4 separate regions of the Homo sapiens genome follow, and all the other regions are reported to be linked to region 1. Evidence: microRNA targets listed by miRTarBase, many of them from high-throughput screens and not tested one by one. Region 1 holds a microRNA gene; each other region holds the end of a gene's coding sequence.
Evidence for each region. The annotated mature microRNA hsa-miR-5001-5p reads AGGGCUGGACUCAGCGGCGGAGCU and lies in region 1 at 1,944-1,967, opposite strand. An mRNA with a match to its seed (bases 2 to 7 or 8) in the 3' UTR can be bound and repressed. Matches are read on the target gene's strand: a 7mer-m8 pairs with bases 2 to 8, a 7mer-A1 pairs with bases 2 to 7 and ends in A, and an 8mer does both.

Region 2: the mRNA of ASB6 is a reported target of hsa-miR-5001-5p. Seed matches in the 3' UTR shown: 7mer-m8 at 1,363-1,369, 8mer at 1,166-1,173 and 7mer-m8 at 730-736.
Region 3: miRTarBase lists ELK1 as a target of hsa-miR-5001-5p. Seed matches in the 3' UTR shown: 7mer-m8 at 1,404-1,410 and 8mer at 1,247-1,254.
Region 4: the mRNA of INAFM1 is a reported target of hsa-miR-5001-5p. Seed matches in the 3' UTR shown: 7mer-m8 at 2,721-2,727 and 7mer-A1 at 2,468-2,474.

What each region holds. Positions count from the first base shown.
Region 1 is chr2:232,548,587-232,551,586 of GRCh38, forward strand. MIR5001 (microRNA 5001) reads right to left here and starts at 1,987; the gene lies at 1,888-1,987. TIGD1 (tigger transposable element derived 1) reads right to left here and starts at 1,971. Exons shown (of 1, transcript NM_145702.4): 1 at 1-1,971. The coding sequence starts at 1,296. It overlaps EIF4E2 (eukaryotic translation initiation factor 4E family member 2), which reads left to right and starts at 2,103. Exons shown (of 7, transcript NM_004846.4): 1 at 2,103-2,158. The coding sequence starts at 2,139. RefSeq lists a silencer at 2,114-2,483.
Region 2 is chr9:129,634,740-129,638,436 of GRCh38, forward strand. ASB6 (ankyrin repeat and SOCS box containing 6) reads right to left here. Exons shown (of 6, transcript NM_017873.4): 6 at 1-3,697. The coding sequence ends at 3,051. NTMT1 (N-terminal Xaa-Pro-Lys N-methyltransferase 1) reads left to right here. Exons shown (of 4, transcript NM_014064.4): 4 at 469-1,396. The coding sequence ends at 725. Among named protein-coding and RNA genes, the nearest start is that of ASB6, 5.6 kb to the right of the region's middle.
Region 3 is chrX:47,634,425-47,638,121 of GRCh38, forward strand. It overlaps ELK1 (ETS transcription factor ELK1), which reads right to left. Exons shown (of 7, transcript NM_001114123.3): 5 at 3,327-3,697; 6 at 2,589-2,690; 7 at 1,097-2,503. The coding sequence ends at 2,405. Among named protein-coding and RNA genes, the nearest start is that of CFP, 6.3 kb to the left of the region's middle.
Region 4 is chr19:47,274,406-47,278,102 of GRCh38, reverse strand. It overlaps INAFM1 (InaF motif containing 1), which reads right to left and starts at 3,218. Exons shown (of 1, transcript NM_178511.6): 1 at 2,380-3,218. The coding sequence starts at 3,183. The coding sequence ends at 2,755. It also overlaps a transcript of CCDC9 not described here. RefSeq lists silencers at 2,847-3,296, 3,657-3,697.

The DNA.
Region 1 (3,000 bases):
TGCTATTTCCACCACATCTGCACTTACTTCCTCCACTGAAGTCTTGAACCCCTCATAGTCATCAATGAGGGTGGGAATCAACTTCTTCCAAACTCCTGTTAATGTTGACAATTTGACCTCCTCCCATGAATCACGAATGTTTTTAATGGCATCTAAAATGGTGAATCCTTTCCAGAAGGTTTTCAATTTGCTTTGCCCAGATCCATCAGAGACATCACTATCCATGGCAGCTAGAGCCTTATGAAATGTATTTCTCAAATAATAAGACTTGAAGGTCGAAATTACCCCTTGATCCATGGGCTGCAGAATGGATGTTGTGTTAGCAGGCATGAAAATAACATTAATCTCCTCGTATATCTCCATCAGAGCTCTTGGATGACTAGGGGCATTGTCAATGAGCAGTAATATTTTGAAAGGAATCTTCTTTTCTGAGCAGTAGGTCTCAACAGTGGGTTTAAAATATTCAGTAAACCACGCTGTAAACAGATGTGCTGTCATCCGGGCTTTGCTGTTCCATTTATATAGCACGGGTAGAGTAGATTTAGTATAATTCTTAAGGGCCCTAGGATTTTCAGAATGGTAAATAAGCATTGGCTTCAACTTAAAGTCACCAGCTGCATTAGCCCCTAACAAGAGAGTCAGCCTGTCCTTTGAAGCTTTGAAGCCAGGCACTGACTTCTCCTCTCTAGCTATGAAAGTTCTAGATGGCATCTTCTTCCAATAGAAGGCTGTTTCATCTACATTGAAAATCTGTTGTTTAGTGTAGCCACCTTCGTCAATGATCTTAGCTAAAGCTTCTGGATAACTTGCTGCAGCTTCTACATCAGCACTTGCTGCTTCACCTTGTGCTTTTATGTTATGGAAATGGCTTCTTTCCTTAAACCTCATGAACCAACCTCTGCTAGCTTCAAACTTTTCTTCTGCAGCTTCCACACCTCTCTCAGCTTTCATAGAGTTGAAGAGAGTTAGGGCTTTGTTCTGGATTAGGCTTTGGCTTAAGGGAATGTTGCGGCTGGTCTGATCTTCTATCCAGACCACTAAAACCTTCTCCATATCAGCAATAAGGCTGTTTCGCTTTCTTATCATTCGTGTGTTCATTGGAGTAGCACTTTTAACTTCCTTCAAGAACTTTTCCTTTGCATTTACAACTTGGCTAACTGTTTGCCGCAGGAGGCCTAGCCTTCGGCCTATCTCGGCTTTTGACATACCTTCCTCACTCAGTTTAATCATTTCTAGTTTTTGATTTAAAGTGAGAGATGTGCGACTCTTCCTTTCACTTGAGCACTTAGAGGCCATTGCAGAGTCATTAATTCGCCTAATCTCAATATTGTTGTGTCTCAGGGAATAGGGAGGCCCAAGAAGAGGGAGAGAGATGGGGAACGGTCTGTGGGTGGAGCGGTCAGAACACACACAACATTAAGTTCCACGTCTTATAAAAGACGCTGTATGTGGCACCCCAAAACAATGACAATAGCAACATCAAAGATCACTGATCATAGATCACCATAACAGACACAGAAATCATGAAAAAGTTTTAAATATTTTGAGAATTACCAAAATGTAACACAGAGACACCAAGTGAGCACATGCTGTTGGAAAAATGGCGCTGATACAATTGCTGGACTCAGGGCTGCCACAAACCCTCCATTTGTTTTCAGAATGCCCTATCTGCGAAGCGTAATAAAACGAGGTATGCCATAGTACAGTGGCGCCGCGACCGACAAAGGAAAGCCTCCGGGAGGTCAAAAGAGATACCAGAGAGTGCGTCCCGCACTGGAGGAAGAGGAAGGTTTTTACCAAGCAGCGAGTCCAGAGCCCGCGCCGTCAACGACGCGGTGCTGCCTTTTTTCCGAGCCGCTGCGGGAGGGGGCCAGGACACGCTCCCTTAGGAGAGCGGGCGGGTCACAAGGACCTGGACAGAGGCAGAACTGAGGCCAGCAGCCAGCTCCGCCGCTGAGTCCAGCCCTCTGCGCAGCCGCCCTGAGCTGGCGTCCCGAGATAGCCGCTTCCAAACCGGGCCTGCGCGCCGACGTTCCGCTGCGCCCCGCGCAAAACCGGAAGTACCCGGGCCCAAGGCTGAGGGACCCGGTGGAGCGGAAGTCACTCCCTGAGGCAGTGGCGACAGCGGCGGCGAGAGGATGAACAACAAGTTCGACGCGTGAGTGGCTCGTGGCCGCCCCCGGGGCCCCTTCCCCGAACAGTTCCCCCGCGCCCGCCCCCGCTGGGGCTGGGGCGGCGCAAACCCTGCGGCACCGGCTTCCCTGCTGGGATCCGGCTGCGGCCGGACCTGGCCTGGACTGGCGGGGAGGAGGGGGCTGGGGAGCAATGGATACCGGAGTCCCGGAGACCCCAGGGCCGTCCGAACCGAGGGCGAAGAGCTGGGCCCGGGGGAGGGGTGGCTGTGCCGCCCGGTAGGGGGAGATTTTCGGACGCCCCGCCCTGGTGGATGCGGATTGCCTGCGACGTGGAGGGGTGGGGACCTCGGCGGTTTGGGTGTTTCCGCAGTCTGGCAGCGCTGCCTCTGAATCCAGCTTTCCCCACACACTCCCTCTCCCCTCTGAGCCTCAGTTTTCTCATCTGCAGAGTGGGGACGGTAACACCCTTTGTCGTAGAGTTTGGAGGATGCAATGAGGTAATGTGGTTGCTGCCCTCGACGCGGTGGAAGGCTGGCTTAGGAATTATCTTCCTGAGACTCTTCCTACTTTCTTTCTCCTCCCCTTCCCGTTCCCGTCTTCCAACACACTCGCCAAGACCTAAGTATACTTGTTGCCCTCTCCTGCCCGCTCCGGTTTCTAGTTTCAGCATCAAACAGTTTGGAGGTACAGAGAGAAAATGCAGAAGTATCTTTACTTATCCCCCTCCAAGGATTGTATCTTGAGGTAGAATATGTTCCTTCCTCTCTTCTAGTAGTCTAGTAAATCGACTGTCTCTTCATCCGAAAACCTGGATTTCTAGTCCCAGATTCACCACTTACCATCTGTTTGACTGTAGAAAAGTTAC
Region 2 (3,697 bases), not on the chromosome of region 1:
AGTCGGCCACCTCCTGAGGCGGGCAGCACAGGCCTGCTGTGGACACTCTAGGTCTGGCCTTGTATTTTGTGGTCTCAGAAGCCTTTGTGGGGACTTCTAGTGTAGGGAAGGCAGTCTCTCTGGGAGCTCCTGCAATGCCAAACTCTTAGCCCAGGTTCACTCCTCCGATCCAAGCCTGGCAGGGGTGGGGCATCATGGTGTGTAGGTATCAGGCAGGACTTGTAAGCCATCCCGTCAAGTCAAATTCTGGCTTAATGTGTCTTTAGGTAGATGACCTCTGAGCCACAGTTTCCTATTCTATGAATTGGGGTTTAGTAAATCTCTCGGGACTGAGAGCCAATGAGGCCATGTGTGCACACAAAATGCTGGGCACAAATGAGGGGCTCAGCGGGGCTGAGAAGTACATCCCATCCAGTGCCGACATCCGCTTGCATGGTGCCCTGGTAACCTTGCCTCTGCCCTCCCCAGGCCACCTCACCGATCAGCACCTGGCCGAGTTCCTGCGGCGCTGCAAGGGCAGCCTCCGCCCCAACGGCATCATCGTCATCAAAGACAACATGGCCCAGGAGGGCGTGATTCTGGACGACGTGGACAGCAGCGTGTGCCGGGACCTTGACGTGGTCCGCAGGATCATCTGCAGTGCAGGCCTCAGCCTCCTGGCCGAGGAGAGGCAGGAGAACCTCCCCGATGAGATCTACCATGTCTATAGCTTTGCCCTGAGATGAGCCGGGGCTGGCAGGAGAAACTGAGGAACCACAGTCCTGGTGGGGGGAGCTGGCAGCTGGGCAAGATCCAGGCGCCACGCTGGCGGTTCGTGAGTGTCGAGGCACCACTAAATATAGCTGTCTGCCGTCCACTCATTATGCGGGCTCTTCTTCAAAAGGCAAGGTGGGACCCGGCGGGGAGGGTGCTGCTGAACCAGCGGTGAGGCAGGAGCCCAGACCCTGCTCTCCTGCGAGATGGGATTGGGTGGAAGGGGCTCCAGGGCTCCTGGTGCTCCCCATGTGGGAATAGGGTGGCCACATCAGTAACCGATTCCCTGGGCCTCCAGCCCGGCCTTCCAGCCATGGGCCTGGCTGCCTGAAGAGGAAGGAAACCACCCCCAACTTGGTTGCTGGGGACTTGAAGACTTCAGTGTGATCTTTACCTAGGGGAGGGACAGAGCTGGGCTGGTGGAGCCCATGGGTGCTGCCTGATGGTGCTGTGGGGTGGGTGCTCATGTGCCAAGTCCTGCTTGGCAGTGGAGACCTGGGGCCCTTAAAGTGTTACAACAGCCTGCAGCAAGGGAAGTTCCCCGTAGCCTCAGTCTTCTCTGGGCTTGAGGCTGCTCCTTGGCAGGCATTTAAAGTAAAAAATAAAATGGGGCTGGGCGCGGTGGCTCACGCCTGTAATCCCAGCACTTTGGGAGGCCGAGGCGGGCAGATCACGAGGTCAGGAGATTGAGACCATCCTGGCTAACAGGTGAAACCCCGTCTCTACTTAAAATACAAAAAAAAAAAAAATTAGCCAGGCGTGATGGCGGGCGCCTGTAGTCCCAGCTACTCAGGAGGCTGAGGCAGGAGAATGGGGTGAGCCCGGGAGGCAGAGCTTGCAGTGAGGTGAGATTGCGCCACTGCACTCCAGCCTAGGTGACAGAGCGAGACTCTGTCTCAAAATAAAACTAAAATAAAATGGGGGCCGGGCACAGTGGCTCATGTCTGTAATCCCAGCACTTTGAAAGGCCGAGGCAGGCGAATCACCTGAGGTCAGGAGTTTGAGACCAGCCTGACCAACATGGCGAAACCCCGTCTCTACTAAAAATACAAAAATCAGCCAGGCATGGTGGTGGGCACCTATAATGCCAGCTACTCAGGAGGCTGAGGCAGGAGAACTGCTTGAACCTGGGAGGCAGAGGTCGCAGTGAGCCGAGATTGCACCATTGCACTCCAGCCTGGGTGACAGAGTGTCTCGAAAAAAAAAAATAATAAAATGGGACCTCCACACTGTGGAGGCCCTTGCCAGTCTAGAGTGGTGCTTCTTTGCAGGGACTTGGAAACAACCCCCCAAACACAGCATCCCCTCACACCTGCCACCCACTTCCTTACCGGCTGCTGTGGGAGCCTCTATCCTGAACTATGGAGGGGCGGGGTGGAAATTTTATATAAGGACCTTGTTAAGGCCAAGAAAGTCAGTTTAATCTTATAATATAAATATATCATTTAGTCACCTCAGCTTATCCCCAGAGGTGTTTACACAATTCCCAATGACCAGTGCAGCTTGGAAGGGACTGAGGCTCGCAAGTGGGTGGCACAGTCGGCTCTTCAGTGGCTCCAAAGTGAGCCCCTCACAACAGGAGACACTTCAGAGAGGTCTGTCCCCAGCCACGCACTCATGATTGCTTTTTAGCAGAAGTCATGGTCGCTGAGGCCCTGGGTTTGGCAAAAGCACAGCTGCCAGCAGAGCACAGTTCTGGTAGGTGGGGCCACGGCTGACCTGGCCCCAGAGCTACAGGAACAGGCAGGGGCCAGCTTGGCTTGCAACACCATGAAACAAGCCTGTGGGGCCCTTAGTGTCTTCTCCCGCAGAGCCCACCAGAAACACTTCTGTGAGTAACAGAACCTGGAAGGAAAAGGGGCAGGGGTGGGGCCTTGGTGGCACCGCACAGGACGTGCCCCAGGCTTCCTCTCCAGCTGCACTGCCACGTGCGGCCAACAAGAGCCCCGCAGCCCTGGGGTGCTGAGGCTTGGTCCTTCCCAGCTTCTGCAAATGCCCTGGCACTGCCCTCCAATTCAGAGGGTATAAACATCAATCCAAGCCCTGTTCCTCTTTCCAACATGGGGGGGACTTGGAGTGCCGCTGGAGGGAAGGGGGCAGTCTCTCTGGAAGAACCAGAGCTGCACCCTTCACCACTGGAGTGATCACAGCTTCAGGCTCTACCTGGCTGGCTTTTCTCATGAAGGATCCCGTCTCATCTCCCAGATCAAAAAGACCCTCTTCTAATGCTGTCCCAGCATCTACCAACAGGCTGACCTGAGCTGCCCGTGTCCCCCGTTCCTGTAGCCTGAGACCTATCAGATGTCATCTTCCACGGAGCCACTGTGCTCGCTAAGGAGGTACCACTTCAGCCTGTCGGGCAGAGGCAGGGCTTTGACCTTCACATCCACAGGCCACGGCTGAAGGTAGAGCCGGATGGCCACACGGCACAGGTGCTTGAGGGGCGGGGGATAGCTCTCCAGCTGCCTCAAGGAGAAGTGGAGGGCCTGGATCTTTTCCGCCAGGCTGCCCACAGGGTGGATATCGAAGTTTTCGGGCAGCTGGAGTTTCTGAGAGTTGGTCACCATGAGATCCAGGACAGTCTCAGCTTTGCGCAGGAGGTCCGCATGGCTCTCGTCTTCCGTGCAGCCTGGGTGGGAACAGAGCCTCTCAAAGATGATGTGAAAGCCAGACCAGCAGGACGCACCGTGCAGGGAGCAGTTGTAGGCGGCTCCGGACTCCAGGAGGAAGCGCAGGAGAGGGAAGTGCAGTTTAAAGCTCTTCAGGCAGATGTGGGTGAGGGACTCGTGGGCTGGGCACTCGCTGGGGTCGGCCCCGTGTGCCAGCAGCAGCCGTGTGACTTGGAAGCAGAAGCGGTTGATCATCTGGGCCTCCTCTTTGTCCCCTCCCACGGTCTCACCAAGCAGGAAGATGATGCAGGTGAACACTGTGTCCCCATCTTTGG
Region 3 (3,697 bases), not on the chromosome of region 1:
TTGGCATGTCTCATTTGCTCAGCTCTTTTGTATGGCCCCTGATTTATGGTTTCTTATGAACTGTTTCACAGACCCCCTGGTGCTCTGACATCACTCAGTTGTCAAGTTCCTCTCCCACAGTTTCTGACTTCCAGTTACTGCTACTGCCAAGTCTCTCATAAACAGTTCCTTGTCCCTCTCCCTTGCATGCCCAGTGATGTGGTCTCTCACACCATGTCAGTGGCTCCGTCCGGCTCACCGTCATTTTCTCTCCTACTTTCTCACAGTCCCTGAACCTGTGGGATAGACTGTGGTAGTAATGGTAAATCGATTTGCAACTAGTTTCAGGTGTACACACACACACACACAGCCTGTCACACTCTCCCAGTCACAGCCATTCGTTTTTCTCAGTCTTTGCTGCAGTCTCTCACGCCTGCTTTCGTACACACAATTGCACCTTCTTGTATCTTTGGTCTCGGTCACTGGTTTGGTCTCCCAGCCATTCTCTCCCGTACAATCAAGTTCGCACCCATACAGTCTTACAGCTTTAGCTGACACTACAGCCTCAAGTAAACAGTTTTGCACATCATCTATTTCTCAAACGTTGAGTCGCCTACAGTGAGGTTTGTCACCTACACAATCTTTGCCACAATCCCTGACAACCTCTACTGTAGTTTCATGCCCACGTAGTCTCTCACATGTGGTTTTGGTCACCCAGTCTGTCTTGCTCGCCATCAAACAGTGACAGGGCTGCAGTCCCCGTTCCCTTCTCGTAGACATTATTTTGTGCATACCATCACAGGTTCTTGTACAGTACCTTGACTATTCATCCAGGCTCAGTTATTTTCTGAAACACAGCCACAATTTCCCACATAGACACACCATCAAAAGTCTGTGGTCACAACTTCTGCACACTCTCACACACAATCACAGCTTTCCACGTCTCTGACACACACATGGTTACCGATATGCAGTCCCTACTATTGTTTCTCACACACGCCATCACACCGTTTCTCTCACAATCGACCTCTGCCTCACACCCTCCACACACAGTCATGCGTGTCACGCTCAGCTAGTCCTGACAACATCAGAGAAAAAGTGCCAGCAGCCTCCAGCATCACTTTGAAAAATATATATTTACAGGAACAATTCCCCATTCTCTGGGACTCTTTAGAAAAAAAAAAGGTCCATTTTGGGGAAGTAAAACAAACAGTGGAGACGAGTGTAGCACTGTCCCCCAAATCACCAACCCCCAGGTCCCAAGGCCTGGGCTGGGCCAGCGCTAACAGGTGAGCCCAGGAGTCTTTTGAACCCACTCTCTCTTGCCTAGAATAGAGACAGGACAGGCTTTATGTCCCCCATTCCTCCCTCCCAACTCCAGGGACATTGAAAGGGTCCTTTGTACCCGCCCGCAGGAAATTGGGGGGCTGGGAGGGAGGGAACTGAAAATTCATGTTTGGTATCAAAAATAAACACTTGGAGTGGGGGAGGCGGCAGGAAGATTCCCCCCCAAATCCCTTCCTTCCCACCCACCCCACCAAATATAGGAAGAGATGACTCCCTCTCCCCTATTGAAAAGCCCCATTTAAAAATAGATTATACTATCAAAATGGCAGCGGGGGAGAGACAGGGAGACCTGGAGTACTGGCTGGAGGGGCCCCCCAGACGGGGACCACCCCCCAAAAAAACCCTCCATTGGGAGGAAACAGGCAGGACCCCAGGGAGGTTGGCAGACAAAGGAATGGCTTCTCAGGGGGAAGAACAAAAGGGACATTCCTCCCTGGCCAAAAAGTTGGTTGAAAAGGATAAGCTGTCTGAGAGAAAGGTTGGGGAGGTGGAAATTTCTATTCCAAGGGTGTGATTCTTCCTTGGCCAAGACTCCCAACCCATTAAATGGTACAAATTCTTCCTGGACCCCTGAGTATGGCCAGGAATAATAAAACAAAACAAACTAACTCTTCTACTCACATCCAAAAACGCAGACAGGGCTCCCTCATCTCCCCAAGGGCAGGCTGAGAAATAAAGAAAGAAAGGTCGTTCTCAAGCCAGACCTCGATTGTCTTGTCTTGGGGAAAAAAGTGGGGAGGTGGGGGAGATGTCCTAACCACCCTAAAAGGTTAGGTCAGGCTCCTCCCAGTGGCCTTCAAAAAATAAATAAATAAACCGCCCCTACCATTGAAGTAGGAGACGTGTAAGGGCGGCCACTGGGGGACTGACAGAAAACAGAGAAGTTGTGGAAGCTGTGTGTTTTCTGTGGAGGAGATAATGAGAGTTACTCTTGGGAGTAATTCTTCCCAAGGATCCCCACCCCACCACAATCAGAGCATGAGTCTTTCAGTTGAACTATGTTTCTCCTTGAGATGGCTGGCTGGAGAGAGCATGGATGGAGTGACCCCAGAAGGGGTGGTGGTGGTGGTGGTAGTAGTCATGGCTTCTGGGGCCCTGGGGAGAGCACCACGGGGGTCGAGAGGCCATCCACGCTGATAGAAGGGATGTGCACCTGGGCGCTGCCACTGGATGGAAACTGGGGGCAAAAAGAGGGAGAGGTCACAGATGGGGGCCATTCTTGGGTCTCTCACCCTGTCCAAAACGGGGAAAGAGGATCCTACCTGGAAGGAGAGCTTGGCCGGGCTACGGGGCGCAATGGGACTCAGGGTGCTCCAGAAGTGAATGCTAGGAGGCAGCGAGCTGGGTGTCAGCAGCACCGGGGTCTGTGGGGAGAGGGTGGTCGGAGCTCAAGTGAGTAGAAAGTAGATGTGGGATGCTGGAAGGGACTTGGTCCCGGCCCCACCACAGATTTCCCACTCACACTCCCAGGGTCACTCCCCAAAGTGCACACACCTAGATGGTAACCATGGAGGCCATGCCTATGATCTCTCAAACTCTGCAGACACCCCCCACTCCCCACTCCCGAGAGCCCACCCTCAGTTGCTGAGACCTCATTGGTCAAGACCACCCACAAGACCCTATCCAAATGCTGCTCTCAAACCTCTCAAGTCACCATCCCAACAGCTCAGGGTCAACTTCCAACTCATGTCCCACCCATGAAACCCCATATGCACATCCCAGACCAAAAAGCCCTGCTCAGGTTCCTTAAGCCACACCCCAACCTAGAAACAGTCCCACAGAAAGACCCTCGGTCCCACCCACAAAAGTCCCCAGCCCTGCCCTTCACTAATCAAACCCCATCCCTCCAGCCAGCATCAGCCCAGTCAATCACACTCAAAGGCTCCACCCTCTTCAGGAACAACCACACTCACCCTCCTCTGATTCCTGTCAGTCACCCGCCACATGCCAATCCCATTGGTGCTGGCGCCCACACACCCCACCCCTCCGCAGGCACTCACCAATGTATGCGTAGGAAGCAGGGATGGGGTCAGCGCCGGCCCCGGAGCCTGGAGGCCGGAGCCACTTCCCGATCCTGGGGTCCGTTCGGGTCCCGGCCCACCTAGCAGGCTCGGGCTGAGTGGAAGCTCTAGGTCCCGGGGCTTCCGGCCCTTCTGCGGCTGGGAGATCTCAGGGCTGGAAGCCGCATGGCCGCCCGCCTGCCCTGCGGTGTCCATAACAACCGCGGGCAGCCGGGCTGGCACGCCCTCCTGTGGAGGGACTTCTGGCTCGGCCTTGGTGGTTTCTGGCACAAACCCTCTCTCCCCCGCAACTTCCAACTCTTCCTTGGGCCCTTCTACTTTCACTTCTGGGGGCAAAGCCCGGCCCAAAC
Region 4 (3,697 bases), not on the chromosome of region 1:
GAGACATACAGAGTGGGAGAGAGAAACAATACCAAGAGACACCAGAGAGATAAACAGGACACAGAAAGACTGAGACGCAGAGAGACAAACACAGAAAGAGAAAAGAGCCAGGACACACAGCAACAAGGAAACGAAAGAGTAGGAAAAAATGGGGCTGGGAGAAGAGAGATGAAAACCAAAGAGAGGGGGGCCAGTGGGAACCGAAATGGAGAGGCCCCTCCCTCAAACTCACCATTTGCTGGTGGCCAGGGCTTTGGACTGACTTGCTATCCCCAGAGGATCCCAGCTGGGGCTTTTAAACCCTGAGGGACAGAGGTGGTGGAGAGAGAGAACATGTGACATCGTTCTCAGGGCTTGAGATCACCAGTTTATTTATTCCTCAGAGCAAGTCTATGAAGAAGTACCATTAGCATCTTCATTCTACAGAACCACAGAGGCAGGGCCAGGCACAGTGGCTCATGCCTATAATTCCAGGGCTTTGGGAAGCCAAGGTAGGAAAATCACTTAAGCCCAGGAGTTCAAGACCAGCCTGGCTAACATAGTGTGAAACCCCATTTCTATTAAACAAACAAACAAAAAATGCTTAAAAATTTTAAATAAGTTATAAGGCTGGGTGCAGTGGCTCACGCCTGTAATCCCAGCACTTTGGGAGGCCAAAGTGGGCAAATCACCTTAGGTCAGGAATTTGAGACCAGCCTGACCAACATGATGAAACCTCGTCTCTACTAAAAATACAAAAATTAGCCAGGCGTGGTGGCGGGCGCCTGTAATCCCAGCTACTCAGGAGGCTGAAGCAGGAGAATGGCATGAACCCAGGAGGCGGAGCTTGCAGTGAGCCGACATTGCACCACTGCACTCCAGCCTGAGCGACAGAGCAAGACTCCGTCTCAAAAGAAAAAAAAAAAAAAGAAACAGAGGCCGGGTGTGGTGGCTCATGCCTGTAATCCCAGAATTTTGGGAGGCCCAAGTGGGCAAATCACGAGGTCAGGAGTTCGAGACCAGCCTGGCCAACATGGTGAAACCGCGTCTCTACTAAAAAATACAAAAATTAGCCAGGCGTGGTGGCAGGGGCCTTAATCCCAGCTACTTGAGAGGCAGAGACAGGAGAATTGTTTGAACCTGGGAGGTGGAGGTTGCAGTGAGCAGAGATCGAGCCATTGCACTCAAGCGTGGGGGACAAGAGTGAGACTTCTCTCAAAATAAAAATAATAAAAAATAAAAATACAAAAAAAAAATTAGCTGGGTGTGGTGGTGGGCACCTGTAATCCCAGCTACTCAGGAGGTTGAGGCAGGAGACTCACCTGAACCAGAAGGCGGAGGTTGCAGTGAGCAAGATCATGCCACTGCACTCCAGCCTGGGCAACAGTGCAAGACTCCATCTCAAAAAAAAAAAAAAAGAAACACAGAGGTCAAGTGACCTGCCCAAAGTCACACAGTTTGTAATGAGAGGAGCTGGAATTTGAACCCGAGTAGTCTCGCCCCAGTCAGTGCCCCTAACTATCACCTATGCTGACTACAAAGAAGTGCTGGCTTCCTAGATTCCCCTTCACAACCACCCTCTGGGGAGTGGTGGTGGGGTAAAGGGGAGGTGAGCAGAGCAGCTGACCTTCCTAACCACCTCCACAGATCTCCAGGAGCCACAGCGTGGGAGAAGATGCTCAGCCTCACTCTCCTGGGAAGGCCTCCAGCTCAAGCGGGGAGGCTGGACAGGAACCAGCTTCCTGCATGTCAGATCCCAGGCCCTGTCCAGAGCCAGGCCTCAGTCTTCCAGGATGGAACATGGCCTCCCCACCTCGGACTCCTTGCCCAGAAGCTAGACCTCAGTTTCCCGGCCTTGGTTTCCTAGCAGCGCCCCAGGCCAGAGGCTGCACCAGTCTTCCAAGGCAGCACAGCGCTTTGGTCATTGGCTCTGAGATTTCCAGACAGGCTGAGAAGCAACACCACCGCCGCCGCCATCCACTCTCATCTCTCTGACCCCAGGAAGTGGGCCAGCATCGTTCCCTCTCGGCAGCCAACTGAGATCCCTGGGTGATTCAGCCTCTGTCCCTGACATGATAATTACACCAACAGCAATTCCCAGAACCCCAGCTATTGTCCTATATCACCCCACCCCTCCTCTTGTCTCCTGTGCTGTAACACGAGGGCAGACACTCTGCTTCTCCCCAGAGACATTTGTCCTTTGCTCCAAGCACACAAAAAACTGGGAAGCCCTTCCCACTGTCTGACCTTCAAAGGCCCTGCTGCTGCTAAGCTGCTTCTCCCTACTCCAAGAAAAGAAGAGCTCCTTAAGGAAGGGGAACAGCCCACCCGGGACAAAACAGACAAAGGCCACACCCCAGGAAGGTCTTTCCCACACAAACTTGGGAGGGGAGGCATCTCTGCAGACAACAGGACAGACACAGCACGAGGCAGCCGAGGCTGTCGTTTATTGCAGATGGACACGGATTCAGGGAGGTGAAGAGGCAGATGGGCTGTGGGCTCTGTGCTCAGCATCCCACAGCAGGAGGGGCAGGAGACAGAGCTCAGGATGGGATCTTCCTGATGGTGGAGGACCCGGCCTGACCACAGAGTAGCTGCAAGAGGCAAGGCCCCGAGCTGACACCCCCTGGGCCCCCATTCCGCGGGATGACGGCTCCAGAGACGCTGAGCGATGTCATTAGGAAGAAGGCCGGACCAATCCAGAGACGGTGCATCCTCGGCGTGGAGCACAGAGCTCTCGAGGGCTGGCGATCCGGGTTGGGGTGGAAGGGAGAGTTACCCGGGTCTTCGCCCCTCCGCGGCCTCTGGCGTCTCTCTGGGTGTCTGGCGGCTCGGACGGCGGTCAGGGTCGCTGTAGCGGCGGCGGCGGCTCAGCGGCAGCTGGAGCTGGGGTCGCGGCCCGCCGGGGACTCCCAGGAGGCAGGAGAGGGAGGCAGCGGCGGGCGCCGGGACAGGCGGCACGCCCGGGCGGGCAGCACACGGAGGGGACGGCGCGCTGGGCTGTGGGCCGGCGGGTGCCGCGGGAGACCGCGTGGGTACCCAGATGAGACCGTAGTACACGGCGAGCAGCACGGCAGCTAGCGAGACGCAGAGGAAGTAGGCGCATACCGGAGCCAAGCGCAGCCAGCGCCCCCGCGGGCCCTCGCTCAGCCCCGCGCCTCCGGGGCTCTCGGCGCCGCCGCCCACGCAGCTGGTCCCCCGCATCCCCGCAGCCCACTCGGCTCCGCGCCGCAGACCGCACAGGCCCCGCCCCCACCAGGCCCCGCCCCCACCCCGCAGACCGCCCCGCTCTCTAAACCGCCCGCCTCCGGCCCCGCCCCCGCCAGCATGGTCACGCCCCCACGCGAGCTGCCGCCTCCGCATCCTAGGCCCACCCCCTCCAGCCTCCGCCCCACCACCGACAGGCGGAGGTGCTACCCCGCCCCCCTCGCTCCAGCCCCGCCCCCGCGCTTAGCCCCACCACCCCAATCACCGCCTCCTCCCGCCACAACACGGTTCTCTTCCCAGACTCGGACTTCATCCAGCCCAGGCATCTAGCCCGCCTCGGAGCCCGCCCCCTCGTCCCGCTCAAGCCCTGCCTGGAGCCCTAACCCGCCCTGTGCCGCAGCCAGTCTCACTTCTCTACCTGTCGGACTGCTCTACTCCAGTGCTCGAGCCCTGCCCGCTACGGCCTCTGGCTCCCACACTCTAGTTCCGGAATCCCCGCTCTCCTCCCGCG